7 separate regions of the Homo sapiens genome follow, and all the other regions are linked to region 1. The links come from fine-mapping of genetic effects on gene expression. A gene starts in region 1. Each other region holds a variant in brackets. All regions are shown on one strand. Distances are from middle to middle.

Evidence for each region. PIP is the estimated chance that this variant, and not a neighbour inherited with it, causes the effect. A credible set is the group of variants that fine-mapping cannot tell apart.
Region 2: its variant is the best candidate, but not a certain one, in a credible set for the expression of ERICH1 in esophagus muscle (GTEx, PIP 0.64).
Region 3: its variant is the best candidate, but not a certain one, in a credible set for the expression of ERICH1 in whole blood (TOPMed, PIP 0.83).
Region 4: its variant is the best candidate, but not a certain one, in a credible set for the expression of ERICH1 in whole blood (TOPMed, PIP 0.54).
Region 5: its variant is the best candidate, but not a certain one, in a credible set for the expression of ERICH1 in amygdala (GTEx, PIP 0.59).
Region 6: its variant is the best candidate, but not a certain one, in a credible set for the expression of ERICH1 in CD4 T cells (CEDAR, PIP 0.85).
Region 7: its variant is the best candidate, but not a certain one, in a credible set for the expression of ERICH1 in whole blood (GTEx, PIP 0.73).

The regions. Positions count from the first base shown.
Region 1 is chr8:729,226-733,225 of GRCh38, forward strand. It overlaps ERICH1 (glutamate rich 1), which reads right to left and starts at 1,999. Exons shown (of 6, transcript NM_207332.3): 1 at 1,915-1,999. The coding sequence starts at 1,936.
Region 2 is chr8:668,380-672,841 of GRCh38, forward strand. It overlaps ERICH1 (glutamate rich 1), which reads right to left. Exons shown (of 6, transcript NM_207332.3): 5 at 219-413. Among named protein-coding and RNA genes, the nearest start is that of ERICH1, 61 kb to the right of the region's middle. The variant T/C (reference allele first, on the strand shown) is at 2,117.
Region 3 is chr8:657,697-662,158 of GRCh38, forward strand. LOC124902053 reads right to left here and starts at 2,266. Exons shown (of 1, transcript XM_047422538.1): 1 at 1,265-2,266. The coding sequence starts at 2,266. The coding sequence ends at 1,265. It also overlaps a transcript of ERICH1 not described here. The variant C/G (reference allele first, on the strand shown) is at 2,226.
Region 4 is chr8:849,545-854,006 of GRCh38, forward strand. All of the region lies in intron 1 of DLGAP2 (DLG associated protein 2), which reads left to right. Among named protein-coding and RNA genes, the nearest start is that of DLGAP2, 110 kb to the left of the region's middle. The variant C/G (reference allele first, on the strand shown) is at 2,421.
Region 5 is chr8:652,049-656,510 of GRCh38, forward strand. It overlaps a transcript of ERICH1 not described here. Among named protein-coding and RNA genes, the nearest start is that of ERICH1, 77 kb to the right of the region's middle. RefSeq lists enhancers at 1-98, 99-598. The variant C/T (reference allele first, on the strand shown) is at 2,494.
Region 6 is chr8:635,922-640,383 of GRCh38, forward strand. It overlaps a transcript of ERICH1 not described here. Among named protein-coding and RNA genes, the nearest start is that of ERICH1, 93 kb to the right of the region's middle. The variant A/T (reference allele first, on the strand shown) is at 2,151.
Region 7 is chr8:703,266-707,727 of GRCh38, forward strand. All of the region lies in intron 2 of ERICH1 (glutamate rich 1), which reads right to left. Among named protein-coding and RNA genes, the nearest start is that of ERICH1, 26 kb to the right of the region's middle. The variant T/G (reference allele first, on the strand shown) is at 2,297.

The DNA.
Region 1 (4,000 bases):
TGGGGTCTGCTCCAGGAGAGGCACACCTGCGTCTTGTGGCACCTGCCTCCTCTCCCACCATCAACAACAGCGCCCAACCCCCACCTGCAACCACCCCATGACCCTGAGCTGGACCTTGGGAAAACAGACATCCCTGCAAGGGGACACGCCAAGCTCCATCCCCTCCTCCTGCGGCACCTTCCCCTAACTTCACTCGTTGCAAGCCACGCAGAAGGGAAATGCTCTGAAGAAGACACACACTCCAGTTTCCTGCTCCATCAGGTCACAAATGCTGGGAAGTTTTATTCCAGCTAAATCCTCCCTTCAGTGCCTCTCAGAGCCTAAGTGCCACTCAGCCGATGGGCTCTTCAGGTGATCTTGAGGAAGACACACAGAAAACTAATATTTTCTTTCCCACCTACATTTTATAAACTTTTGGGATTTATTAATCTATCCTTCCAACCACAATGTCCTTAAACAACGTAAATTTACTTGACCATTCTGTCACATATCCAATAGGAAAAAAAGGCTGTTTCGAGGGAAGGTGATTAGTGAATGACTAAAACAATTAACAGCTTTCATTCACTTTAATTTGGTGAATGGAGAAAGGTTTTTTTTTTAAGTTGATTAGGTACATTACAGATGCTATAATAATTTCTTGCATAGAGAAGAGCATTTATTCCAGGCTTAGAAGAGTGCAAACATTTGAAGGAATGTAAGAGAAGAGTGTGTTGTGGTTTAAAACAAGGAGAAAACCTGCAGTAGCAAGAAGCCCCCCACCAAGAAGGCAGGCACAGCTTTGCAGGCAGCTGACCGTCAGGTCTGCTCCTAAGAACCTCGACACTGAATTCACAGCCTGCCAGCCCTGCTTCCAGGAGAGGGTCATGAACAAGGTATTTCTGGTGCTCATTAACATACGTGAATGTCCATTTTAGAGCCTAGCATGTGACTGCTTAAAAACTCTTAGGTCATTTTTAACCTGTGAGCTGATCAGGTGACAATTCCCTGGTCCTGAAGGAGAGGGGGAAGCCCACGTGCAGTGTGTCCCTGAAAAGGAAGACTTGAGACCATATTTTTCTCCACATTCTGCCTCACTGAGAAATTTTTTCTTTTTAAGCAATTGTTTTATAACTATAGTTTGCCATTATCTTTTCATTTCAAAGGGAAAAACATGATTATCAGTTTTAAACATAGAGAAGGAAAAAAATTCATCAGCGCCTGAATTAATCCAAGTAACACGAGATTCATGTCAAAAACCGCCACTCTTTTCATTATGATGATGATTACACGGTGAGGGTAATGAGCTGGGGTTTGCAGGAAGCAGGAGCACGCTTTATTTTCTAACACTTCCGTTCTAAGGCACGGCCAGGTTAACCAATTCTATTTATTCTCCTCCTGTCTTTGGTACTAATGCTATCACAGAATTTAATAAGCACTAGGATGCGCCCCACACCTTAGGTCCACTGAAGGTAAACACCATGACCTCCGTCTCTCAGATGAGGACACAGTGGCTCTGGGAGGTTCTGCTGTACTTTTCGGTGAGGCTGCCGGAGCCGGCTGCAGCCCCACCCCGGAGCCCTGGGCTAGGACCCCTCTGAAGAGCTGAGCGGCTCCTACTCACTCACCAACAGGGGCTCTGCTAAGAACACGAATCCCTGGCTGGGCTCGCCTCCGCCCAGGACCCCAGACACCAGGTGGGGCCTGGCAGGGCCGGCCCGACCAGCAGCCATGCAAGCAACAACACGGGCGAGGGGTGGGCCGCGGTCCGGGGTAAGAGCGGGGGATGGGTAGGGACTGGGGTGGAGGTGGGGAGTCGGTCTGGGTTTGGGGTGGGGCCTGGAAAGGGGCCGGGGTCGGGGTCCCGAGTCAACACCGCGGTCTGAGCCGAGAGCCGGGTCTGGGGTCTGGGCAGGCCTCCGCACCGCACCCACCTACCGTGCTTCCTGTGCGCCGCCATGCGGGACCCTGCCGCGGACCTCAGACCACGGCGCGCGGTCCTGAGCTGAGCGCCGTGCCTTCCGGGTTCCGCCCTCCTGGGTCCGCCCACAACAGCAGGAATGCCCAATCCGAATACGGGACCCCGCCACGGGCGGTCAGTCAACTACATCACGGCCGTAGATTGGCTGATATCGAGTCTGTAGGCGTGTCGCGAGGCTCCAGACCCGCCTCTGGGAGCCCCGCTGTGGAGCATGCGCGGAGGGAGGGCTGCGGGGGCGGCGGTGCGGGCTCTTGGGGACCTGAGGACGCTGTGAGAGCGCTGGCGGCGACTGCTCTACGCGGTGGCGGAACTCTGGGGGCGAACGCTAGGGAGGGCGTTGTGGAGAAGAGGGGAACGGAGGGCCCCAGAGGAGAGGCGCCCACCCCCAACCCCACGGGTGCACCTGCGGATCCCCAGTCCCCGCTTCGCCCCCAGGCACCCGCCGGACACAGGGAATGGCCAGGGCAGTGCCCCCGGCCCCAAGGCACCTGCAGGATACAGGGAGTGGCTAGGGCGGTGTCCCCGGTCCCCGGGCACCTGCGAGACACGGATAGTGGCCCTGGCTGTGACCCCAGCCCCCAGGCACCTGGAGGATATAGGGAGTGGCCAGGGCGGTGACCCCTAGCCCCTAGGCACCTGCTGGATACAAGGAGTGGGCAGGGCGGTGTCCCCGGCCCCCAGGCACCTGCAGGATACAAGGAATGGCCAGGGCGGTGTCCCTGGCCCCCAGGCACCTACAGGATACAGGGAATGGCCAGCCGGTCCCCAGACACCTGCTGGACACATGAGTGGCCAGGGCGGTGACCCCAACCCCCAGGCACCTGCTGGACACAGGGCATGGCCAGGGCGGTGTCCCTGGCCCCCAGGCACCTGTGGGACACAGGGAGTGGTCAGGGCAGCGGCCCCCACGTCACCCCGGCTTGCCAGACCCCTTCTTGTCTCCCTGTCCAGCTCCAAGGGCCTCTGCCCTCCCGCTCCACCCCCTCAGGACCCTCCTCCTTGAATTCGTTTCTTCCAAAACATTTCCCAGGTGTGTGCCAGGCGCTGTTCCTCATGTGGGCTGTCTCAGGAGAGGAACCCACGGAGATGGGTGTTTTGGAGGAAAATGAAGCTGGTAGGGCCTAACTGTAGAGTGATGGGCGCGGGCTTGAGGTAGGTGAGGGAGCAAGACTGGGGGTGCCCAGGGAAAGAGAGCCCACAGGAGGGAAACGATGTCCCAGGAGAACGGCTGCCCTGTTTGAGTTTGGGGACCAGAAGCAAGGGCAGGATAAGGGGAGCTCAGATCAGGAGGAAAGGAGACCCAGACCCAGGCAGGGTCTGCAGGGAGCCTGATAACTTTGCATGTTCCAAGAAGCAGGGTGGAAAGTTGTTACACGATGTAGAGCAAAGGGGTGAAATGATCTGATGCATTTTCTTTCTTTTTGGGGTAGACAGGGTCTCACTCTGGCCCAGGCTGGAGTGCAGTGGTGCCATCACAGCTCACTACAGCCTCCAGCTCCTGGCCTCCAGCAATCCTCCCACCTCAGCCTCCCAATGTGTGGGATTACATGCATGAGCCACTGTGCATGGCCTGATGTACATTTTAAAGAAGTCATTTAGCGTTGTGATGACTAGAGTTGCATGGAAGGAAGTGTGGAGATTTCATCTGCTGCAATAAGAGATGCTGACAGCTCACATCCAAGTGGTGGCACTGGAGGTTCTGGGTGGGGGGGCTAGTTGGATTGTGGACATGTTTTAAGGTAAAGCCAAAGAGATTTTCCGATTGATCAAACTGGGCTGTGACAGAAAAGGAGAAATGTAGAATGGCTGTAAATTTTTCGTTTGGAAACTGGAAGGCTGGAGTTGCACTGAGGAGGTGGAGAGCCTTCTGGGGATCTTCGTTTGGTGGTAGTGTGCAGTTTTAGACAGGTCAAGTTTGAGGTGCTCATAAGATGAGTAAGCATATGAGGTCATGAAGGGAGCAGGCGTGAACTTTAGAAAGTGGTCCAAGGAATAAGCCCCGAGGGGCTCTGGCCTTTGAGAGGTGGGGAGATGAGGGGGCCC
Region 2 (4,462 bases), 61 kb before region 1:
GACTGCACATGCATTTCTGCATATATTATGTGAAATATTTTTATATCAAGCAGAGATGCAGGAAGCCTGTTTCTCTCTGGGACTCTATTCTCCCATGCCATATGTGCAGTGTCATATTTTCCAACTCATTGCTGTTTTGGTGGCGTGTAAGTCTTTCAGAGGCAAACCTCGATGAGAGTATCTTAAGCAGGACCTTGAATAAATCGTACGGTACTTACCAGGAGGCATCGTGCAATGTTCTGGGAACATTTCCAGAGCATGCTTCAATCTCTCAGTATCTTGCAGGAGCAGCAGCGTTTTCATGTGGTACAGGATGGACACGTCTGAGGGCAGCATGCTGTGTGACGCAAGGCGGTCCAGCAGCTCCTCAGCGGCATCTGCGAGGGCAGCTGAAGCTGCATCTCTGGAGACACCTACATAAAGTCAGTTTTGCTTGGAAATACAGTTTTGTTTTTATTTCTATAAACTAAAGATAAGCTTTCCTCTCTTAAGGAAGGTCTCAAACCTACGCTTCCACACAGAATGACATATCTGGGAGATGAGAAGCTACCAGAAGAGAGAATCAGAACAGAGCTCAGCACAAAATACCACTGCATGAACGACTGTGGAAACCTGGCCCGTCTACACCTCTGTCTGGTGAGACGCCTCCCCTGGCCCATCTACACCTCTGTCTGGTGAGACGCCTCCCCTGGCCCGTCTACACCTCTGTCTGGTGAGACGCCTCCCCTGGCCCGTCTACACGTCTGTCTGGTGAGACGCCTCCCCTGGCCCGTCTACACGTCTGTCTGGTGAGACGCCTCCCCTGGCCCGTCTACACGTCTGTCTGGTGAGACGCCTCCCCTGGCCCGTCTACACGTCTGTCTGGTGGGACGCCTCCCCTGGCCCGTCTACACGTCTGTCTGGTGAGACGCCTCCCCTGGCCCGTCTACACGTCTGTCTGGTGAGACGCCTCCCCTGGCCCGTCTACACGTCTGTCTGGTGAGACGCCTCCCCTGGCCCGTCTACACGTCTGTCTGGTGGGACGCCTCCCCTGGCCCGTCTACACGTCTGTCTGGTGGGACGCCTCCCCTGGCCCGTCTACACGTCTGTCTGGTGGGACGCCTCCCCTGGCCCGTCTACACGTCTGTCTGGTGGGACGCCTCCCCTGGCCCGTCTACACGTCTGTCTGGTGGGACGCCTCCCCTGGCCCGTCTACACGTCTGTCTGGTGGGACGCCTCCCCTGGCCCGTCTACACCTCTGTCTGGTGAGACGCCTTCCCTGTCCAACACACGACTCAGGGCTACGAACAGCAGCAGGTTAAACCAGACAATGAAAGCAAGCTCTCTATGTCCACATCACATCGCTTAAAAAAAGAATCAGACTGTGGCTGTTTAGAAGAAATCAAGGAGAACTGAAAACAAGCCCCCGACTTCCCCTGGATCTGGCTGCTGGTCTTGTTTCTCTGGCTGCTGTTCAGCAGTATGACTGCAATTCACTTGCCTCTGGTGGTTTCGGCGTTAACCCTGCTTGGACTTGGCAGGACTTCTTCAACCTGTGACTCTGTGTCCTGTAACAATGGTGTAAAACTCCCAAATGTCACATCTCCGTCCTGCCCCCGCTCCGTCCTCTCTCCTCTCCACCTGGGCCTGTTTCAGGGACACAACTTCCCACTCCATGTCTGCCGGGCTCTTTCCTGTGTTTTCCACCCGTTTTCTCTCCACTCTGCATTCTGGGGACTTTCTTTCACCTGTCTTCCTGGTCACTAATTCTCTTTTATACCAACTCTCATTTGCTGTTTCCCTGTCTTTTGAGGCCTGAATTTTAGTTACTATATTTCTCAGGCCTAAAATTTCCATTTGATTATTTTAGTAGATTCAAATTACCTGGCGAAATGCTCCAATTTTTCCTTTTTCCCCTTATTTTAGGCTCCTTATCTGATAACATCGGCCTCTCCCACTGTGGCTCTACTGCTCTTTTTTTCTCGTGGTTTTCGGTGCTGTGGTCCTGTCTCGTGGCATGCCCGGTAAACTGTTGCTGAACGCATAGGAAAGACTGCAGAGGTCTAGGATGGCGACATTTTCCTCTAGAGGGCTCACCCTTTGCTCCGCCAGGCAGACCGAGTAGAGGGGGATCCCC[T/C]GGACCGTGCAGGGACTGAGCTGACTCCAGGGTGGCCACACATTTGGGACAGTGTCATCTGCTTCTGGGCTGCCCTGCTCTGCTGGGCTCGAGGGTCAGGCCGATCCTCATCTCATCAGCACCTCAAGATGGCCAAGAGGCTCCTATGTTATTCGGAGGCTCTCTGTGTGGCTTCTCATCTTCCACCCACAGCTTCAGAATTGGGCAAAGGTTCTAAGGGAAGCCATGCAGTGTTGAGTTCTGTTCTCTGACCTCTGAGTCCACCGGCCCCAGCTCCAACCTCTGAACCCCCTGGCCCCAGGTCCAACATCTGAGCTTACTGGTCCCCAGGCTCTGACCTCTGAACCCACTGGCCCCTGCTTCGACCTCTGAGCCCACCGGTCCCCAGGATCCAACCTCTGAACCCGCCGGCCCCTGCTCCAACCTCTGAGCCCACCGGTCCCCCAGGCTCCAACCTCTGCACCTGCCAGCCCCAGCTCCAACACCTGAGCCCACTGGTCCCCAGGCTCCGACCTCTGAACCTGCCGGCCCCTGCTCCAACACCTGAGCCCACCGGTCCCCAGGCTCCGACCTCTGAACCTGCCAGCCCCGGCTCTAATGTCTGTGCTCACTGGTCCCCAGGCTCCGACCTCTGAACGTGCCAGCCCCGGTTCTAATGTCTGTGCTCACTGGGCTCCAGGCTCCGACCTCTGAACCTGCCGGCCCTGGCTGTAATGTCTGTGCCCACTGGTCCCCAGGCTCTGACCTCTGAACCCGCTGGCCCCTGCTCCGACCACTGAGCGCGCTGGTCCCCAGGCTCCGACCTCTGAACCTGCCGGCCCCGGCTCTAATGTCTGCGCTCACTGGGCTCCAGGCTGAGACCTCTGAACCTGCCGGCCCCGGCTCTAATGTCTGTGCTCACTGGGCTCCAGGCTGAGACCTCTGAACCTGCCGGCCCCGGCTCTAATGTCTGTGCTCACTGGTCCCCAGGCTCCGACCTCTGAACGTGCCAGCCCCGGTTCTAATGTCTGTGCTCACTGGGCTCCAGGCTCCGACCTCTGAACCTGCCGGCCCTGGCTGTAATGTCTGTGCCCACTGGTCCCCAGGCTCTGACCTCTGAACCCGCTGGCCCCTGCTCCGACCACTGAGCGCACTGGTCCCCAGGCTCCGACCTCTGAACCTGCCGGCCCCGGCCCTAATGTCTGTGCTCACTGGGCTCCAGGCTGCGACCTCTGAACCTGCCGCCCCGGCTCTAATGTCTGCGCTCACTGGGCTCCAGGCTGAGACCTCTGAACCTGCCGGCCCCGGCTCTAATGTCTGCGCTCACTGGGCTCCAGGCTGAGACCTCTGAACCTGCCGGCCCCGGCTCTAATGTCTGTGCTCACTGGGCTCCAGGCTGCGACCTCTGAACCTGCCAGCCCCGGCTCTGTCTGTGCTCACTGGGCTCCAGGCTCTGCTTTTGGTTTCTCAACCTGTGAGGCTGGTTTTTCTGCCTCTCTGGGCTCCACCAGGTCCTTTCCCCAGACCCTCACCCAACGCCCACACACAGGACTTGCAGATTCCTGAAGACAAGTGGCTGCAGATGTTTCCATGATAATCTCCCCGTGAGGGTTCCAGGAGTTCCATCTTTCTATGAGCTGTTTTCCTGAGTAGCTTCCTGATCCCTTCAACAGGTGTTTCCCATCCTGGCTTTCTGGTTACTCCTGGCATGACTGTTGGTCTGCCCCAAGCTGCTCGATCACACACAGAATAGAAAGTTTACTGAGATCTTTCTGAATTCTGCGTCTACTTTGCAGTGTCTTAGCCATGTCTTCCTGATGTGCCATCTGGATATATGTTTTCAATTTGTTAATACAATCTGCTGAGAAACACGCTAAAGAGGAAGAGGCTAGAGTGCTCTTCGTGTTGAAATCAATCTATTAAAAATGGTACTTCTGCATCTTTGTTAAAATCAGTTACTTACTTCCCAAATTATTACATAGCTGATATTTCTCAATCTTGCTCATAAGAACACCATCAAATGCCTTGCTTAAATCTGGATCTGCTAAACCCACCACATTAACCTGAACCTGCTGGTAACGTCATTGAAAAGACACCTATACCCACAAAAATTAAACAGTATTAAAAAAAATTAAAGAGAAGAAAGCCAGGAAGCCAGCGCACGGTGAGTATCTCTGTTCTGGGGCAGCCACGTGTCCCTAGGTCAGCTGTCAACAAAGCGTAGTGCAGATGTAAGCAAGTGCCATCTGTGACATTAAACCTATGTTTATTTTCCTTATCTTATGTCAGTACAAACAACTGCACAATAATGCATGCTGAGAAATCGTGCATCCGTTCTATGTGGAAGAGAAAATGAAACCTGTCCTA
Region 3 (4,462 bases), 71 kb before region 1:
CCTTTTCATCAGGAGTGAGGGTGGAGATTAGAATGATATAAATGTCATGCCATGTTAAATTAAAGGACTCAGTAATGTGCAGGAATTCCTTGCGATAATGAGAGGGATTTTCAGAGGAAGATCCCAGATGCTGTTGGATCTGCGACAAATCAGACGTAGTGAAAGGGCCATGAACACGAGCACTGCCTTCAACCCCAGCCACTCCCAGAAGAGGAAGAATGGCAGAGGTGGTTTGACTGGCTGGCGTTTCCTTTGCCTTTAATGTCCAAATACAAGGCTGGGCCCACCAGCCCCCAAGGGGCATCCAGGAGGGGCCCCACCCGATCCCCACGGACCATGTTTGAGAGAGAGGCTGGCACGGCCCCTTTCTAGAGGCCATTCTTAGCTCCGGCTGCTGCTGCCCTTCTTCGTGCCCAAGTGGCCTCTGGCTGGGCCCCAGTCTTTGGCTTCCAGGGCTTCGGCTGCAGCTGGACTGTGGTTCCTGGACTTCCTCACCCACCCTCACCACAGGAACAGGAGGGCCCAGCCTGGCCCCTTGCTTGCCCCTCCCCTTCTCATTTGCCCCCAGGTGACTGGGGAGAGAGGCTGGTTCCCTGCAGGAAGAAGACTGCCAGCCTGGCCTCCACTGGGCCTCCCGGGAGGTGGGTTACTGTGAGCCCTGTGGGGTGGTCAGGCCAGAGCCCCGGAAGGGGGTGGAGACACAAGGCCCCGAGTCCAGTCCAGTGTAAAGCAGGGGCTTCGACCTCCCTGAACACCTGGCACTGTGGGCCAAACCCCTCTTCCCAAACCCCTCATCCCATCCCCGAGGCACAGTTCTCTCCTGTTCCTCTCCTCAAATTATTCCTCCTGTGTCATGGGCTGAACTATCCGCGGCCCACGTCCATGTTGATCCTGGCCCCCGATGTGGCTGCATTTGGAGACAAGACCTTAGGGAGGTGACCAGGCCTCAATGAGATCATCAGGGCGGTCCTGACCCAATCGGACAAGAGGAGGACAAGACCCTAGAGATGCCCCTGGTACAAACAAAGGCCACAAGAGGACTCAGGGAGAAGGTGTCGTCCACAGCCTCAGGGCAAGGCCTCGATCGGGGACTCCACCTGCAGGACATGAGGATGCCAGGCTGTGGGCTTTGCTTATCCTGCTATGGGGCCCGAGCTGGCTCCTCCCCAATTCCTCCCTGGCCGTCCTTCCTCTGCCTTTCCTTCACTTGCTCTGCGACCCAGGGGCCCTTACCAGGCTCTGGATTTCAGGAGCTGGGACTCCATCATCTCATCTTGGTAGGGTCCCCACATCTCCGGTGTGCACTGAGCATCCTGGGGAGGGGGTGACCATCGAGATCTCCGGTGTGCACTGAGCATCCTGGGGAGGGGGTGACGATCGAGATCTCCGGTGTGCACTGACCATCCTGGGGAGGGGGTGACCATCGAGATCTCCACGGTGCACTGAGCATCCTGGGGAGGGGGTGACCATCGAGATCTCCGGTGTGCACTGAGCATCCTGGGGAGGGGGTGACCATCGAGATCTCCGGTGTGCACTGACCATCCTGGGGAGGGGGTGACCATCGAGATCTCCGGTGTGCACTGACCATCCTGGGGAGGGGGTGACCATCGAGATCTCCGGTGTGCACTGACCATCCTGGGGAGGGGGTGACCATCGAGATCTCCGGTGTGCACTGAGCATCCTGGGGAGGGGGTGACCATCGAGATCTCCGGTGTGCACTGAGCATCCTGGGGAGGGGGTGACCATCGAGATCTCCGGTGTGCACTGACCATCCTGGGGAGGGGGTGACCATCGAGATCTCCGGTGTGCACTGACCATCCTGGGGAGGGGGTGACCATCGAGATCTCCGGTGTGCACTGAGCATCCTGGGGAGGGGGTGACCATCGAGATCTCCGGTGTGCACTGAGCATCCTGGGGAGGGGGTGACCATCGAGATCTCCGGTGTGCACTGAGCATCCTGGGGAGGGGATGACCATCGAGATCTCCGGTGTGCACTGACCATCCTGGGGAGGGGGTGACCATCGAGATCTCCGGTGTGCACTGACCATCCTGGGGAGGGGGTGACCATCGAGATCTCCAGTGTGCACTGACCATCCTGGGGAGGGGGTGACCATCGAGATCTCCGGTGTGCACTGACCATCCTGGGGAGGGGGTGACCATCGAGATCTCCAGTGTGCACTGAATATCCTGGGGAGGGGGTGACCATCGAGGCTTCCACTGGCAGG[C/G]TGCTCCCTGTCTGTCCGTCTCCCTTCCTTTGTGTCCTCATTCAATCCCTTACAAGGATCCTGGCCTCAAGCCCCCCAAGGGAAGGGGGCAGCCCCTCATCAACTCACTGTGCCAGATACAGCTGCAGTGGAACAGAGGCCTGTGCTGAGGCAACGAGGTGGGGCTGAGCTCCCGAAGGCAGGGCCTTCCCCGACTCTCCCCCTGGCCCCTGCCCGGGGTCATGGCTGAGCTCCCGAAGGCAGGGCCTTCCCCGACTCTCCCCCTGGCCCCTGCCCAGTGTCATGGCCTCCCCTCCAGCATGTGCTCATGTTCACACACACCTGGGGCCATCACCTGTGATGAGGCTTGGCAGTTGTTATTGTAATATTTGACTTTTAACAACAGGCAGATTACCTGGGCAGGCCTGATGGAGTCAAATGACATCTTTAAAAAGAGGTTCTCCATACCAGAAGATTCTTCTGCCACCCTGAGGTCGGCTGCCAGGTTGGAGGGGCCACGGGGCTGGGACTTGGTGCCTTGAGGTGTGGCAGCGGCCACAGCATCAGCCAGCAAGGACACGGAGCCTCTGTCCTGCGGCCACACGAACAGCATTCTGCTGGCGGCCCGTGAGTCCCCACACAGAGGTCCCAGCCCGGGCTGTACTGAATCCCCACCCAAAGACACTGCGAGGCGGCAAATGGTGTCGTTTCAAGCCACTATGCCTGTGGTCATTTGTTATGCAGAAGAAGAAAATTAATTTTTTTTACAATAAAAATTTTGGAATTCAGTTTCCTCCATCCCTGGCCCTGGCCCAAACTGGGAGGGAGCAAGAGATGAAAGAATGGCTGGGACACAGCCTGCCTGGGCAGCCTCAGGACAGCGCTAAGATCCGCAGCTTTCGAGCTGCTTCCACCTGTGCTCCCTGTCTCGTTGCCGGCCATGAGCTATATGGGACTGCTCTCCTGGGTGGTTCTCGGGCAGGCTCCGGGTTCCTGGGATACCTGCTCCTCCGCTGGGTCCTGGGCGGTTCTCAGGCTAGCTCCGGGTTCCTGGGATACCTGCTCCTCCGCCAGGCACTGTGACCTTGGCTCGCTCTCAGCCTTCAGGATTCACGCAGTGGACCAAAGCCCTAAGTAACCTGGTAGGGAACTCACTGCACCACAGTATCCTGTTGAATAAGTTTTGAGGAATTTCTGACCCCTTCAAAGCTGTACCCAATATTGGTGCGAGGCGGGGCAGATGCATGCACATTTCTTATTTTGGAGCGGGTGGAACACATTCCTGCGATTCTCTGAAGAGCCCCGGGATGAGAGGACATGTCACCTGGAGAGCGCTCGGGGCAAGAGCTGCACAAAAAAGCAAAGCCCAGAACTGACCCTGTGGGCCCTGGAGTCTCCTGAACCCACCACAGTTCTGCCCTGGAGCCTGGCGGCAGCTGGGCCTGGGAAACAAATTAGAGACCGGCTTGTGCAAGCCCTCTCTTCTCAGGCTCTGCAGACACAGGCGGAGGTCCCAGGGTGCAAGCAGTACTGACAGGCTCAGATATTCTGTGTTTTTTTCCTTCTAGGCACAACTGTCTTAATATTGGCAACCTGACAATTCCTCATGCTCCTGACTGTTTCCTTCTCTGCCTGTCTTAATTGACGTGGTTTACAGAAAATAAATTACATGAACTGAATATTTTGCACTATTGTAGAAGATAAATTGATCTAATTATTATCTAACTTCAAACACAGTGGAATAAACAGATTATCATATCTATGCTGACATATTAGAGACAAGATTTATTTGCTTTTGTTTTGTAGAAGATGCATTTTCCTTTTTGGAATCAGAATGATACACAAAACGAATTAACCCTGAGCATCCCACCTGCTCGACTGTACCTCTATTCCTCAATATTCTCAGGGTCAGGAAAGTGAATGCAGAAGGTTTCGCAAAGTAAAGCCCCACAGGATCACAGAAGCAAGAAGGGAGTCTACAGGAATTCTGTGGAACCCAGGAAACGGCCACACGTGACCCACCACCCCCCGCAGTGGCAGGGATTCTGTGGAACCTACAGGGATTCTGTGGAACCCAGGAAAAGGCCACACATGACCCACCACCCCTGCAATGGCAGGTATTCTGTGGAACCTACAGGGACCCAGGAAAAGGCCACACATGACCCACCAGCCCTGCAATGGCAGGGATTCTGTGGAACCTACAGGGATTCTGTGGAACCCAGGAAATGGCCACATGTGAACCACCATCCCCTGCAAGG
Region 4 (4,462 bases), 120 kb after region 1:
ACTGCCCTTTTGGGTTTCTACCAGCCTTGCCCGAAGGTTCCAGCGGTGCAACATCCTTCCAGGACCCCTGTAGCCTGGGCTAATGGTCTCCCAGCCGTCCTAATAGTGGAGAGTTGTATCTCTTTCAAGGTTTTACTGCATTTCCCCTGATAACTGATGACATAGGAACTTTTATCATGTGCCTGCTTTCCATCTTTACTCTTCCATGAAATGTCTGTTCAAATCTTTTTCTCACTTAAAAAAGCTAGGTTGCCCGGGCACGGTGGCTCACACCTGAAATCCCAGCACTTTGGGAGGCCAAGGTGGGCCAGGAGTTCCAAACCAGCCTGGCCAACATGGTGAAACCCCATCTCTACTAAAAATACAAACATTAGCTGGGCCTGGTGCTGTGGGCCTGTAATTCCAGCTACTTGGGAGGCTGAGGCAGGAGAATTGCTTGAACCTGGGAGGCAGAGGTTGCAGTGAGCTGAGATTGTGCCACGCACTCCAGCCTGGGCAACAGAAGGAGACTGTCTAAAAAAAAAAAAAAAAAAACTAGGTTGTTTGTATTTTAATGTTTGGTTTTGAGACTTCCCTCTGTATTCTGGGTCTGAGTCCCCTGTCAGATGTGACATTTGCAGATATATCTCCCCCACCTTTGCGTTGTCTTTTCATTTTCTTAACAGTGTGTCAAAACAGTGTTTTGAATAATAGAATATTTTAATTTTCATAATGTCCAGTTTATCACATTTTTAAATGCATTGTGCTTTTGGAGTTTATCTCAAAGCAATTTTTTGAACCTTCCACCTGTTGCTACAAGTTAAAAGTTACGCTGCCTCTTGAAAGATTTCTGCACTTTGTGCAGAAATTTTATTTCCAATTTACAATGTATTTTAAGAAAAAAAATCATCAAATTTGCTTTTAAGTGTTTTTATTGTTTCACAGAAAGCTTTAAATTAATTCTTAATAAGAATATTTTGGAATAGGGAAACACTTCTTTTCACAATTTGTCAGAGTATGTATCTATGTTTATGTATATTTGTGTGTCTGTGTGTATGAAATGAGGCTGTTGCTTGAATAGCCCAATTAAATGTTGGCATGCTTTATTTTACCTAGAAGAAAATTAGACCCCAGAAAGCAATATATGCATTATTGGCCTTTATGTATTTTAGAATTATTTTATAATAGCATGAAATTTTAAATGTTGCGAAACTATCTGGCTACTATTAGGCTAATCCTGAAAGTATGCCACAGTGTTGTAATGCACTGTGATTGTCTCAATTTTCCTAAAATAATAGTTAAAATTTTTTTTTTCACTTTAAAGAATTCAGAGGTAAGTTAGTAAAGTTTGGTAACAAATTTTTCTCACAAAATATTGTCTTTCACTCTCTCTGTTTTCACTTTTGAAATAGCCAAGATTCACACCTTAGAAAATGCTGCAAAGAGGCCATGTACAGAGCTATGTGATGAACAAGTAGAGACGCAGCAAAAGATGAAAGATGCACTGTCCAGATGGAGTTCTCTGTATCAAAACAACATGTTTTTAACATATGATTTTTCTGTTTGTTTGTGCCATAGGTGTTTGCTGTTGAGAGAAGACTTTTCTGTATGTAGATGCACAAGTGCCATGTGTTACAGTTGTCTTTGGTGTTCAGTATAGTCACACACTGTGCAGGTGTGCAGCCCGGGAGCTGTGGGCTGTGCCATTCAACCCAGGGGTGTGGTAGAACGCACCATCCAGGTGTGTGTGAGTACAGTCTGATGTTCGCACCCTGACAAAGTCGCCTGGTGACGCATGTCTCAGGACGTAGCCCCATTGCTAAGCGACGTATGACTGACTGTGTTTTCTTATCACGTCAGTGTTGTGTTACCTGTGAGCGACATGTAAGCTCATCGCTGCTTTGGAATGGGTGCTGCTATTTCCCTGCTACTAGGTAATTTAAAATAATGTGTTAATAGGAAGCACCTATGTTAGTATATTATGATGAAGACTATTTGATCATTTCAGTATAATTTTTTGTGTATTTTATTGTGTACATTTACAAACACCGTTCTGAGATTAGTTCCTGGGATTTGTGGACTAGTCAGTTCAGCCTCTGTTCAAAAAACTTGTCACATTTATTTATCCAGCTGCCGAATTGCTCAGATCAAGTGCCAGAAAGCATGCAGTTTTGTGTGATTTGTGGCTATGGATAGGGGCATAGATTTCCTCCCTCATTTAACACGATTCACGGAGACCACGCCACGTGCCCCGCAGCCTGCTAGATGCCAGGAACCACACTCGGAGCTGGGAAGCAGTGACTGTTCCGTGACTGCTGGGTGGCGGGAGCTGCAGGGGGCCCCCGCTGCGTTTCCCTCTCACCTTCACTAATACCTGGAGCTGTCTTTATTATTACTCCTCTCTTATTAGCGAGGACACTGGTCTTGGGAAGGTGCAGTGA[C/G]TTGGTCAGGGCACTCAGCTAGTGGGCGGCGGTCCTGGGACTCAGCCCCTAAACCCAAGCTCCCACCTGCCCTGTGGACAACAAAGGCATGCAGCCTCCTGCCAGCTGTGAGAATTGGCTTTGGTGTAAATTTTGATTTCCTCTTATGTGTGTGCAGAGATTTTGAGAAGGGACACATTGGAAGCTAAAAAAAAAACATGTCAAAAACAGTTTAAAGAATTGCTCTGAGGGATAGGAAATCTGTCTCTCTCACCTTTCTCTGTCTTGGTGGATGACACAGACTTCCGTGTCCCCTCTCCCTGCACGTGGATCTGGAGGCCACAGGCCTGGGGCTCTGCCTCCTGTCTCCACTGAGCTGTCATGAAACCACAGTAGCCTCCTGTTTGAAATCTGAGATTGGCTTTTCACACGTGATCTTCAGTTTTCCAGATGGAAGAAAGAACACTAATGGCAAATCCAATGAAACCATCATGATTCTTTTGTCCGTCTTTTATCTGCTCATCAGCTGTAAATTGTAATGAATTATTAGCTTGATTTTACTCAAGATTCTGTGGGTCATTTTCCTCTTTCTCTTGCCAGCTTAATCGATTGTCTGATTGTGGTAAATGAGCAAATCAACATCTCTCAGCCTCGTGGGCTTTTGTATAAATTGCGGACAGAGTGTTATGTTCCCAGTAGACGGGATTTGTACTGATTATGTTCGCAGATGTCATGCTAACACCTTGGCTACTTCAACGTTTCTGTAAAGGGTAAAATATCCACCCAAACCCAGCAAGGCTGAGTGCATTCTCGGGCGAGTGTTTCCTTGGGAAATCTAAGTAGCACAGTTTCATTCTGAATGACAACGTCCTTGATGTAGAATTACTGTTGCTTCACAAAAGGACCTCATTTACCTTTGTGCTGTTTTTGTTTATGGATCCCCTGGCCGATTCCGTTATTTCTGCAACAGATTTTGGTAAAACTGGCTGTTCTTATGTGCAGCATGACGCTGGATCTTCGCAGATGGGTCAGACTGGCTGCTTTGGGGCAGTGGGCTTTGTAGTGACACATTAAATAGTTACAGATACTTTAGGAGCAAAAGAGGAAATTCAGTGCTTAGTTTATAATAGCTGGGTGCTAGAGTATGAGTCTAACATTGCACTTAGGTGTGTGTTGGGGTCCCCAAGAGTACCCACAGTTCCGTGATTCACTGGGAGCACTCCCAGGGCTCGGCACAGCTGCAGGACAGCTGTGAGTTGTTACAGAGAAAGGACGCGGAGCATGGTCATCAGAGGGAGAAGGTGGAGGAGGGAGGTCCAGGGAAACGAGATGGAAGCTTCCAGAGCTGTTCCCCACAGAGTCCCAGGAGGGGCTTGGTTCTGCCAGTATCAAGCTGTGACCACGCATGTCGTCCAACAGGAAGCTTGTGAGAGACACGGTGCCCAGGGTTGTGCTGGGGTCTGCTCAGATAGACAGCCCTGCCAGCAGGAGAGCAGGTGTGTGGTATAAACATCATCTGCACAGATGGCTTAGGTACAGGATGCCCCTCATCAGTTAGGGAATGATGGGGATCCCCCACGACATCCAAGTTCTCAGATGAAGCCCAGGGCCAGACTCACCCCTCATCAGTTAGGGAATGGTGGGACCCCCCACGACATCCAAGTTCTCAGATATAGCCCAGGGCCAGCCTCGCAAGCAGCCGTTCTAGGGAGCAGTCTCAGGCCTGCAGCCACACCGCCCCGTGCACAGGCTTAACTACTTTAAATCACTGGAGGATGTGTTTGTCATTTAATTTAATAAGAATTCAGTATTCATGCCCTGATTGCTAGGGACTGAACCAGGGCATTACAGAAACAAGGCAGTTTTCTCTTTATGTTGATTCTCTCTGTGGTGGGCTGAAGGTTTGTCCCCCAGATTCATACCCTAACCCCCAATGTGATGGTGTTAGGAGGAGAGACCACTGGGAGGTCATGAAGTCATGAGGGTGGGGCCGCCACAGGTGGGATAAGTGCCTTTTTAAAAGGGACCTGAGAGAGCTCCCTGCACCTCCTACCTAGCAAGGA
Region 5 (4,462 bases), 77 kb before region 1:
CAGAGCGTTTGCGGGCGCTGGGGCATCTCTGCATAGGTTTACCACCGACGGCTCTGCACTCACCTCTTCAGACAAGCGATTGCCCTGGTGCTCCATGCCACCCCATCGACGCCTTCCCTGAACTCACCCTGCACCCACGTGCCCTCTGAATCCGACGCCTGAAGACCTTACTTCCGGTGGCAGGAAATGCAGCCAGCAGGAGGAAAGGTTACGTGATGGAGGGAGAAGCTGTTCTACAAGAGCAAGACTGGGGCCTGGCCCCGTCAGAGTCACCACCTTTAGGGAAGCAGTGGACAGAGATAAATGAGACAACACAGGCTCGCAACCAAATGCAGAGCCCGACCGTTGTTGGCTGCTGGTTGGAAAGATGTGCTGGGGACAGTGGGGAAATCTAGATAGGAACGGAGTGGAGTTGATATCACATAAAGTGACCACGAGCTTGCCTGGGATGGTTCTGGCTCACACCTGCTGTTTCCGCATAATTATTAATCCCACCTCATTCACTTTCCAAAGTGTCCTGTTCTGCTGATAATTCCTATGGTCATTCAAAAGCTGGGGAATTGGTGTAGTTGTCTTAGGCATGAATAATGGTGTTGAGCTTACAGGGTGTCTTCATTCCTAGGAGATGCCTCAGGCTCAGAGAATTTAAGCTACTTGGAGAGACCAGGGGCACACAGCTCATCTGATGTAGAACTGGTTTATAAAAACTGTGATAAACAAAACAACCCAAAAGTAGGCACGGGACCGGAATGGAAATTCTCCTAAGAAGATAGACAAAGGTCAACACGCACGCAAAAAGATGTCCGGCACCACTAATCAGCAAGGAAATGCAAATCAAAACCACGAGGTGCTGCTTCATAACCATCAGGATGATTATCATATATTTTTACAAACGAGAAATAAGTGCTGGAGAGGATGAGGAGGAATGAGCACACTCATGTGCTGTTGCTGGGAATGAAAAACGGTACAGCCATTGTGGAAGACGGGGTAGAAATTCCTCAGAAAATGAAACCCAGATTTAATTACCGTATGATCCAGCCCTTCCACTTCTGGGCATAAACCCCCAAACTGAAAGCTGGAACTCAACAGGTGCTTGTACACCCATGTACAGAGTAACATTATTCTAACAGCCAAAAGGTGAAAACAGCACCATGTCCATCTACAGATCAATGGACAAACACAGTGCCATGTGCTAACACGAACTAAATGTGGCCTGAGAAGAATGCCAGGACGTCTATGTTTGAGTCCTTGTGGACGAACTATAACCTACCTTAATAGCAGACAGGACTGAAAACCTAATTCAGGAGTCTGCGCCTGTAATAGTGGCCGAGTCTTGACCAATCCCAGCAGCCATACGTCAACCATGCGTAGACTGCCGAGTGTTCAAACTGTTCCAATAAGGCAAATGCCAACCTGGAACCAATCCAGCTGTTCTGTACCTCACTGCCGAGTTTTATATATCACTTCCCCTTTTTTTTGTCTATATATTTGTTCTGACCACGAGGAATCCCTGGAGTCTCTCTGAATCTGCTGTGATTCTGGCGCTGCCCGATTCATGAATCATTCATTGCTCAATTAAACTCCTTTAAATTTAATTCAGTTGAAGTGTTTCTTTTAACAAATGGAATATGATCCAGCCTTAAAAAAGAAGGGAGTCTGGACACAGGCTATAACACGAGGAACCCTGAGGATGTTATGCTGGGTGAAATGAGCCGGTCACAGAAGGACGAATCCCGCAGGGTGGCACTGAGGAGAGGTCTCCGGAGGGGTTGGAGCCACAGAGACAGAAAGTAGGATGGTTGGTGGCTGCCACATGCGCGCAGGGGAATCTGGACACAGGCTATAACACGAGAAACCCTGAGGATGTTATGCTGGGTGAAATGAGCTGGTCACAGAAGGACAAATCCCGCAGGGTGGCACTGAGCAGAGGTCCCTGGAGAAGTCGGAGCCACAGAGACAGAAAGTAGGATGGCTGGTGGCTGCCAGGTGCAGGGAGGGGTTGCGGAGTTCCTGTCTGATGGGGACAGAGTTTAGGTTTGGGAACTCTACATTTTAAAATGTAAATTTTACAGTATGTGTATCACAATACAAATGTATTTTTTAAAGTATAGTAGACTTTGCCTCAAAAGCCCCAGTTCTTTCAATCTAAATAAGAAAATAATGCAAAATACGCCAAAGGCTTTAAGACCCTGTTCATCCTAAGGCAACGTAACCGTTCACAAATAAAGGAATAGCTAAGTTAATTGAGGCCCGTTAACTTACTAGCATATTGTGCTACCATTAGGATGGATGGCCAGGAAGCTCCTTCAGAGGCTTGGTAAGAGAAAACCTGGAGGGACTGGAGGGGCAGAGCTGGGACGGGGCCTCCTCGAGGGGCTACGGTGCTGGGGAGGGCTGTTTCCTGATCTGGGTGTGGGTTACAGGGGTCTCGGCATTTTGTGAGAATTCAAGGAGCTGTGACATTATGTTTTATGTACTTTTCTATATGTATGC[C/T]ATACATCAAAAAACATTGACTACAGTTTTAAATAAATTAAAAAATTATGGATCCATATTGGCAACTATGTAAAGACACACACTGAAGGGAAAGATGGAAAGGAACCTCCCACTGTCTACCAGAGATGGCTTAGGTGACGTCCCCGAGGCCACCACAGTGACATCCCCCCCAGGCTGCCATGGAGATGTCCCCACAAGGACTTGGGCTGACACCACAGTGTCCCCGTTGCTGGGAGGGGCAGGCAGTGGTGTCCATGGTGGCAGTGCAGGTAGATACACCATGGGTTTGCCCCAGGAGAGGACCCCCCGAGTAGCTGCTGTCCCCCCAGCAGGAACCTGAGGCGGGAACACCTGCCAAGCTGGAGACAGCGGGTCACAATGGCTTTGCTTGCGGTGACCAAATCCTCTCAGGCTGGACGCCAGCCCCCTGGGGAGTTGCGCCCTGGTGCTCACTTGGGCACTTTAATTATCTTTAGTAACAAATTCCCTTCAGCCCAGCTCACTACAGAAAGCCGTGGAGAACAACAAAAAGGAAAACCAACCCCGAGTGGTCTCTGCCGAGCCCAGATGCACGACGGGACCTCAGGCCAAGCCCACGCCAAGTCGGCCCCAAGGGACTAGGAAGAGCAGCCGCGTTTGATTTTGTTCTTCAGCTTCGCCTTTCTAACAGCAAGGACTTGGCTGTCTCTAGACAGGAGACAGACGCTGTCCAACTTATTCTAAAATTCTCTTTCACTCTTACGCTCAGACGCCCTCATGCCACAGGCAGGTTGTAAGCAAATCCAACACGGCAGATAGTAATTAAGCCTGCAGAGAGGATTTCTGTACGTCAGCACACCCAGGAGCGTATGTAATAGGAGTCTCACTCGTTTTTGTTTGCCCGTCTCTCACATAGACTTACGTTCTTACCTACGTGTGCGTTTCGTGTTCTGGACGATGGTGCACCAGCACCTGCCCTTGCAGGAGCTCCTCTTTTCTTCTTTGCTGTGGTCAGTTGCTGGGACCCAGGGGCCGAGTGGATCACGCAGCAACCTTCATCACGGGGGATCATTCTGGGGGCATGTGTGGCCTTTTCTCTGGCTTGCTCACTCCTTATCTGTATTCATTCTGTCCTCTGCATTCCTTCCTTCCTTCCTTCCTTCCTTCCTTCCTTCCTTCCTTCCTTCTTTCCTTCCTCTGTGCCCCACTTCCATTCCACTCCTCTCTCATGCACAGTCACACACGGTAGACAGTGTATTATTTAAATACATTCCTGCAGAATTTCTATTGTTGTATGTGCCTCATTTTTAACTCACGACCACGTTTTTCATGACACATCCTTTCCTGTCTTACTTTTCCCTCCACACACGCAGGTGCAGAGACCGCCCATCCACTATGCTGTTCTCGCAGTTACACCCAATCGCAACAGGTCCCTCCCCCTGCCCAGGTGGACACCAGGGGCTCCCTCTTCAGCCTCCGCAGATGCTGCTGCAGGGCTGTCTCTGTGCCTGCAGACTCATGGCCTCAAGACTTCCCCAAATCAGGCTGTAGACCTGCCCGCCAGGTCTGAACTGCCTGTGACCACAGCCATTCCCAGGTCTTCTCCGAATGGCCTCGCTGCTGGCACGGTCCTCGAGGGACATGCCCCTCATCCCCACAGCATCTTCTAAACTCCCCCGGTTCCTTCTTTTTCTGTTTTCCCCTACAAGCCTCCCGTCTGGGTGCTCAGTGCCAGCAGCTGGATCCCCCCTGCAAAGCTGCTCCTCCCCTTCGAAATCTGCAAGTCACCTGTGGGGTAAGGTGAGGCTTCGGGACTCTCCCCTTCCCCAAAATATCTGACCCAGTGATTTTAACATCCGGATCGTCCTTGTTGGGTTTGGTTATTATTCCCTTGGGGACGACAAAGCACTTTGCTAATTCTGTCATCTCTATGTTTGTTTGCCCCACTTTTTTGTGAGAAGTAGAGCTTTCTCCTCCTGACCTTCCCCAC
Region 6 (4,462 bases), 93 kb before region 1:
GCGGCAGGTGCGGTGATTCCTCATCCTGCGAGCCGTTCAACCAGGGCGAGAAGGCCTCCGCCTCGGCAGAAACAGCCCAAAGCTGCACCTTGCCAGGGCCACCTGGTGCAACGAGGCTGTGGGCTCCTTCATGCCATCTCTCAGAGAGGCAAAAGCTGGGATCCTGTTAATAGCATTCTCTGTGGAAAACACTCAGCCTGGGGCTAATGTCTGGCGCGCTCTAAGGCGGCTGAATCCCTGCGCCCCGGCCACCTCCACTGCCCTGGGCCGAGCTGAATCCCTGCGCCCCAACCACCTCCATGGCCCTGAGCCGAGCTGGGCGTTCACAGCCTCCCTGAAGCTCAGCTGCGTGGCCACGTGGGGTTGCACGTCAACTGGGAACTAGGTGCAGCCACAACCAGGGAGCCAAGGCCTCGGATGTGTGGAAATCATTGATGGTTTCTGCTAGAGACTGTCCTTCTGGTCACGGGATGCCTTTTCATCGTTCCTCCCTCATAGAAAATACTCTTAGCTGTTCCCAAAGGAGACGGCCCAGAGTGCCTTCCTCTCCCGACTTTAGCTCAGAATCGGGGCATCTGCCTGGGTTCTGCCCCACGTGGGCCCAACAGAGTCTCCTCACGGACGGAGGCCTGTGCACTGAGCACAAGCCCTCCACTTACCCTCAGCCCTGTCCACCAAACCCTCAGCACTGTCCCACCAAATGCACAACAGCAGACAGGACACCTACAACAAAAGCGCAGTCCAAATAAAGGGTCGCTGCTGCAGTGGCTGTGCAGCCTCCGACACTGTGACCTCTGGGGAGGAACGGTGCAGACCTGGCCTCGGCAGGCAGCTCCCTGATGAGGCCCCAGACGTGCTCCCCTGAGGGGCCAGGAGGGATGCTCTGGGCTCTGCCCTCCCGTCCAGAATCCTCCATGACTTCCAGGCCACGTGTTGGGAGTCACCTTCTGAGCATTTCCCAGCCTGCACAGCCCACTTTCTGCAGGGTCGGAGGGTTGGTTCAGGACTTCCTTCTCAGCATTTCCCAGCCTGCACAGTCCACTTTCTGCAGGGTCGGAGGGTTGGTTCAGGACTTTAAGCCAGATTGCAAACGCACCGAAGGCGTCCAAACCAGCTCACCAAGCCTGTTCCTTGTGCAGTGACCACACCAGGGCTGCTTCCTGTTGCCTGAAGGCTAACGACACGTTTCTGCTTCTCTCTTCTCTCTGCAGCCACTGTGGCTTCTCTGGGCCCATCGGGGCTGTAGTTGTGTCAGCCCTGCTGGAAACAGGCTGGATCTGGCCACACTCATTCTGTGAAACACCCGGTGGGGTTCTGCAACCAACAGCCTCGTCCCCGGCATCCTGCATTCCTAGCTGCTTCCCAGAGCTGCCACCCTGGGACCTCAGTGGCCTGAGTGGGTAAAAGCCACAGCTGTGCCTGATTCTGCGGCTCCTGGGCTACACGTTCCTCTAGCCCCATGTGTCTCCTCTCATGCTGCCCAGCATTCCATCCTCACCACGTGCTTGGGGTTTTGCTAGGGCAGCTCGCCACTCCTGGGGTGGATTTCTGTATCCCTGCAGAGCCGGCTCGCCTACAATCAGAGCCCCACATGCCTGTTGTGGCTGTTTCTCCCGTGGAGTCGTCCAGGGCCCAGCTCCTGCTGTCTGGCTCTGCTCATGGCCACTGCAGATGCTGAATTCAAAAGAAGAGGGCAGGGAAGCTGTGTGGGGTGCTCAGCTGTGAGGATGACCTCACAGGGCCACAGAACCTAGTGGGGTAGGGCAACACAGCCCCACCGTGTGCCTGGGAGCAGGAGGAAAGCTGGGGGGCATCTGGCAGTTCCTACCACAGAAGCCACGGCTGCTCAGTTGGGGAGTGGAGCAGCCGGGAGTCAAACAGTGCTTGCCTGACGTCCAGACCCCGCTGTAGTCACCAGCCGTGCGAGAGCACAGCAGCCAGGGTCCTGCTCTCAACATGTAGCCTGCTCTGGCCACTGCAGGCAGCCGAACAAAATGCAGGGGCCAGGCTTTCTGCTGAGGACTTTGATTCAACAGATGCACCTTTAACAAGCCACTAAGTTCTGTGGACTGCTTTGCAGGGGCAGGATTTGGTGAGGAAGCAAAATAATGACTTTACACAGAAGCCTGTTCTCTAGGAGGTCCTGAGTC[A/T]TTTACATCGGTGACCTGGGGCAGCAGTCAGGCTGCGGGAGCACAACCCAGGCAAAGCACCTGCTGAGGAAGGGCCCAGCATCCTGCAGAAGCTCCTACCACGTGTGGGGCGCCTGGCCCTTGCCTTGGCGTTTCTTATCTTTTACTTACATCTGTGATTTCAGAGCCTCCCAGTGTCCTAAGACCTTGCTTACAGGGCTTTGGGCTAGTTCCAACATTCCTGGGGCTCGATGGGAAGCTCAGCACCAGACAGCCACGCTTGGGCACGTTCAGACCCTCAGCCAGCACGGGCCATGTTCTTCGGAGAGGAGGCCTGCTTGAGATACAGCTTCCGTTACAGTGCGGTGGGCAGGTGGGCCGGTCGTGCCTGAAAGGAGGGCAGTTGATGAAATGCACCTGGGAAGGTTCGTGGGTTCAAAACTGTCTTGTCAGGAGGGAACTGAGTGTGGGTCAGAACAAGGCCACGGAGGTGGCGTCCACTGAGCTGTGATCGTGTACGAGGGCAGGATCTCGCTTAAATACAGTGAAACTGTCTTGCGATGGAAACTCCCTTTGCAAACAGCTCATGATTCTGCTTGTGGATAATTTAAGTTGCTGTTGTGTCTCCTGCCTTATGATAGCTAATTGCAATCACTCCTCCCACAGGAGGTGTGTCTAACCCACCTGAACGTGGTTATCCCTGAAGCCATTCCACCCTTTCGTTGCGTCAGCATTGACCCAGAAGACTCATTTTGACCCCGGCCTGTCGTCATCGAGAGCAAGGCCACGGCAGTCACCCGCTGCCCTTGTGCGCAATCGCTGCTCAGTGGACGCTGCCTCCGTGGCCTTGTTCTGACCCACACTTGGTTCCCTCCTGACAAGACAGTTTTGAACCCATAAACGCCTATCTTTCCAGGTACATTTCACAACTGCCCCCCTACCAGTCACCACCGCCCCACCTGCCCACAACACTGCAACGGAAGCCGTCTCTCAAGCAGGCCTCACTGAAGACCACGGTCCATGCTGCTGAGGTCATGAATGTCCCCAGCGTGGCCACCTGGCACTGGCTTTTCCCCATCTGGGGAAGCTGGAAATGCCCAAAGCCCGGGTCTTGGATTCTGCTTTTTCTACTCAGATAAAGACACTTGGATCTGGGTCTGAAGTGCAGGCTGTGTTCCCACTCATCCCATCACTGAGGTCCTTGTGACCCCAGGGTCAGCTGTGTTCCCACTCATCCCATCGCAGAGCATCTGTGACCCCAGGTCATGCTGCTTATTCTTCCCAGGCTGCATATCAAGGTATACATATCAATGTATACCATCAGGATGAAATATCTTCCTAGAAGAAGTGATAGAGAAATAAATGAGGAGATGATTTGAAAAGCACTTTGAACTAAGAATTCTGAGCCTCTGGGCTGTCACTCTGGGCAAACCACAAAATATCAAAGAGCCGGTCTGTCATCAGCCACCAATCCAGTTAGCAGACACGACCGAGAACCCTGGATTCAGAAGCAGCCGCCAACCCAGTTAGCAGACACGACCAAGCACCCTGGATTCAGAGGCAGCCACCAATCCAGTTAGCAGACACGACCAAGCACCCTGGATTCACAGGCAGCCACCAATCCAGTTAGCAGACACGACCAAGCACCCTGGATTCACAGCCAGCCACGAATCCAGTTAGCAGACACAACCAAGCACCCTGGATTCAGAGGCAGCCACCAATCCAGTTAGCACACATGACCGAGCACCCTGGATTCACAGGCAGCCACGAATCCAGTGAGCAGACACACCAAGCACCCTGGATTCAGAGGCAGCCGGTTTTTCAGAACCAGCTCTGTTGTTCACTAGCCTCCTGGCCTTAATTAAGTTTCTTATTTCCTGAGCTTGTGTTTCCAGGTAAGATTCTCAAGAGACAAAGAAGAATAATGCTCCCTAAAAGCTGCCGCACACATGCCCTGTGTGTGCCCGTGACATGTCCCAAGCCCTGATGGGGAGTGGCTCATTTTGTACCACACAGCTGTCATCCCCACTTCACAGAGGAAGAAACTCAGGGGGCTGAAATACTTGCCTGAGACATGGAAGCAGTCAGTGGCAGAACTGGGAGATAACCGAGAAACTGAGTGGAATGCCGCCTAATCAAAGGACCCCTATGGAGAAGGTCCTCATGAAAAGGCAGCAGATGCTCCTTTTTTATAGCAAAAATGTTAATTCTTTCTATTTTGGCTGAACTTTTCACATCCCAATTCCTCTCTGGAGCTGCTGACACACAAGCCCCAGGTGGCAGGGCGAGCTCTCTCCGCCTGCTTATGTTTTTTTCTTGCTTGTGACCCAGAA
Region 7 (4,462 bases), 26 kb before region 1:
CCCATCCTCCTCCTAAGGCCCCACCAAAATGAGAATAAGTGGGTTTGCAACACACAGAGGACAAATGAAGGACAGATGAAAAAAATACAGTGTTGGAAAGTGAAAAGTAGACGGGATGCTGAATCCTAGAATGGCAGCCGAGACACAGCAGACACGAGATCTGCTCCAGAGGGGCCGCCAAGGAGCCTGGAAGTGGGGAGAAAAAGGGGGGCAGGCAGGCTGTGGAAGCCTCCCCACCACCCGTGGGAGACCGGGACTCACTCTCTGCAAAGGCCAGGCCTGGCTCCCAGGAGCCCCAGGCACCATAACTGAAGGCAAAGACTCCATAAGATAAACAGGGAGGGAGAGCCTGTCCATAGAGAGTGTGAGAGACCCTTCTTCTCCTCCTTCCCGCTCCAACTCTGAGACGCAGTGACAAAAACGAAGGGTGCAGCCGGAAGGGTGGAAGATGAAATTTGAGAAAATCTCCCAGAAAGTGGTCTCAAATCACTAAACCATAAAAAATCCGGGAGAAGATGTAAGAAAAAGGGGATCTATTGGGAGACTCAATGTCTGAATGACAGGAATTCTGTAAACCGAAGATTGAAAGCAAAGAGGAGGAAACGATCAAGGAAACAAGAGAGTGGCACATGTTCCCAGACTACGGAGGCCACGACAGATGAAAACAGACCATGCTCAAGACCTCAGCATCAGGCTGCACCCACATGAAGGCCAGAAGCAGAACCTCAAACTGTCCTAAGGGAGGAAAACTGCTCATAGCCACAGGAATCGAGAATGATGGCAACTGCCTTCTCACAGCGACACTGGATGTTAAAGACTTCCAGTGTGAAAGACAGTTATTAGCCCAGAATCCTACACCCCGAAAAACTTTTAAGTACAAGAATTAAGGTATACTTGACCTTCAAGATCTCTAAAATATTTATCTCCCAAAAACCATTTTTCAGGAAGTTACTAACGAACGCATTTCAACAAAATGGAAGCAAACCCAAGAAATGAAAAGACTGAGGCCCAGGACAGCAAAGGAAGCCCCCGGGAGAGGTGAGACCGGGAGTTACGGCAAGGACTTGGGGGCGGCCCATGCTGGGGGTGGAACAGTCTGGAAGAGGCCACGGAAGATGAAGCTCATTGACCCTGAATGTGTCTGACCATAGAACAAGGACAGGGAGGTGAGGGGAGAAATTAGTACTATTAAGTATTTAGAAGAAAATGTAAAAATCCAAGAAAACTATTAACTCTACTAAAGCTCTGCTCACTCCACTAAAGGTTTCACAAAACGGAATAATCGTGTGTTATGTGACTCAGCAAGAAACGGTGTTTACGGAGACATAAACATGTAAACAATACTGATGTACAAACATTTTGAAAAAATCATATTGGAAGGACGGGGGTTGTAAAAAATGTGCATCCATGGTGGGGGAAGCTGCTAAAAAAAACCAAAATCCTTAGTTTCCAAAGTCAATACATAAGATTTAATCCCTTCCCTCCCTGCCAAAAAAGAAAGAAAAAGAAGAAGAAAACAGGAAGCAACAGTGTAAGTGCGTGACTCTGAAAGGGGGGGTGGTTTTACCCAGGAGCAGCCACTGCAGAGCTGGAGGGTGTGTGACTGGAGTGATGGGCAGAACATTGCTGTTTTTAATAATAATTCCTGAGAATTATTTGAATCTAAAATATATGCAACACATAACTGACAAATTTAAAAAAAAGTTCAATATGGGCTCTTCAGTGAAAAAAGTTTACCAAAATGCACATACACCAGTTATTTTGGTTGTTGACAAATCAGTCTTATCTTTGGGACAAATGGAATTATCAACACTCTTCTAGAACCAAAGAAACAGATCGTGTGAAGTGAACAAATATCAATCAATTGGCTAAATCATTGCCATAATTACCATGCTTTGACCTAACCGTACAAGAACATTTTCCTCCGTCTCATGTCCAAGGACGGATGTGGGCACTGTTCCTCATCCGGCTGCCTCCTGTCCCTCACAGAGCGCCACTCGGCCCAGCCCTGATATCCAGCAGGACTCCTCCTGGACGTGCATCTCAACGGACACTGCGCGATGGCCCGTGCAGAAGTGACCCACGGTTCTTACGTTTTTTATTGTGATTTCATCATTTTACCCCCGGCCAAGACTTCTCTTTTTCCAGATGCAAGTAAATTATAACATTTTTCCTTTAACATTTCCAAGGCACAGCACTTCAAAAATATGTTGTTCATGATTAAAAAAAAATCAATAAACTGGGCATAGAAGGGAACTTCTTCAACATGATAAAGGCCACGTATGAAACCCACAGC[T/G]AACATCATACAGGATGGTGAAAACAGGGATGCTTTCTCCTCAAGATCAGGAATGAGACCAGGATTCCCACTCACGGCACTTTTTGTCAACATCGTATTAGAACTTCTAGCCAGGGCAATTAGTCAACAACAACAACAACAAAAGGAAGCAAAGGGCATCCAGACTGGACAGGGAAAGTACAACTATCTTTACTCACAAAGGAAAAAGTAAAACTACCCGAAATCACAGATGACAGCATCTTGCACAGTGATGTACCACAAAAGACACTGGTGAAAGGCTGGCCGCATGGGGGACGGTGGAGCCTTAAGATAATGCGGACCCTGAAGATGGTAACACTGCACTTTCACCGTACGTTTTTAATGTTTGGATGCTGAAAGGCTGGCTGCATATAGGACGGCGGACCCTGAAGATGATAACGCTGTATTTTCACCGCACCTTCTTAATGTTTGGATGCATGAACACTCACCATGGTGTTACAGTTGCCACTGTCTTCAGCACAGGCATGTACTGATTGGGCGAGCAGCCTGGGAGCAACAGGCTGTGCCACACAGCCCAGGCCTGCAGCTGGATCCACTGTCTAGTGTGTGTAAGCGCACTTTGCTCACACAGCAATGGACTCCTTTGGAATGTATTACCGTTGTTAAGTGATGTGTGACTGTACATAGAAAATCTAAGAAATCCACAACAAAAATGTAAGAGCTAATAAACTAGTTAGGCAAAACCGCAGGATACAAGGTCAATACACAAAATCCCTTGCATTTTCACAGACAAACACTGAACATTCCCAAAAGAAAACAAACAAAAAAGAAAGCAATTCCACTTACAATAGCACCAAAAAGAATAAAATACTTTGGAATACACTTTTTAAAAAACGGTAAAACTTTTCTACGTCCTGTAAGTACTGGAAGGAAAAATATAAAAAAAGATAAGGCCAGGCGCAGTGGCTCACGCCTGTAATCCCAGCACTTTGGAAGGCTGAGGTGGGCGGATCACCTGAGGTCGGGAGTTCGAGACCAGCCTGACGAACATGGAGAAACCCCATCTCTACTAAAAAAATACAAAAAAAATTAGTCGGACGTGGTGGCACACGCATGTAATCCCAGCTACTCAGGCTGGAGAACTGCTTAAACCCAGGAGGCGGAGGTTGTGGTGAGCCAAGATCATGCCATTGTACTCTAGCCTGGGCAACAAGAGTGAAACTCCATCTCAAAAACAACAACAACAACAAAAAGATAAAACTGCACTCTGAAAACTACAAAAGATGGTTGAAAGAAATTAAAAAGAACTTAAATAAACAAAAAGACATCCTAAAGCTAGGGACTGGACAATGTAATAGTGTTAAGAAGACAATACTGCCCAGTGTTCTACAAACTCATGCAATACCCATCAAAATTTCAAATGATTTTTTTTTGCAGAAATTGACATGCTGATCCTAACATTAATATGGAATTGCAAGAGACCCTGAGTCTTGAAAAAGAACAAAGTTGAGGGACCCACACTTCTCAATTCAAAACTTAGTACACAGCTACAGCAATCAAAACAAGATGGTGGATGGTACAGACATGGGATGGACATACATCAATGGAATAGAATTGAGAGTCCAGAAATAAACCCCACATCTGTGGCCAACTGATTTTTTTTGTTTCTTTTTTTTTTTTTTTTTTAGACAGAGTATCACTCTATCACCCAGGCTGGAGTGCAATGATGCGATCTTGGCTCACTGCAACCTCTGCCTCCCGGGTTCAAGCGACTCTACTGCGTCAGCCTCCCAGGTAGCTGGGACTACAGGTACCTGCCACCATGCCTGAATAATTTTTGTATTTTTAGTAGAGATGGGGTTTCACCACGTTGGCCAGGCTGGTCTCGAACTCCTGACCTCAAGTGATCCATCCACCTCAGCCTCCAAAGTGCTGGGACTACAGGTGTGAGCCACCGCACCTGGCTGCCAACTGATTTTCAATGAGTGCTAAGTCCACTTGATGGGGAAATGATGTCTTCCACAACTGGTGTTAAGACAATTGGATATCCACATGCAAAGGAATGAAGTTGGAACTCTACCTCACACCATACACAACATCAGCTGAAAACGGATCAAGGACCTACACATAAGTGCTAAAACTATAAAACTCTTAGAAGAAAACCTAGGCATAAATCTTTGTGGCCTT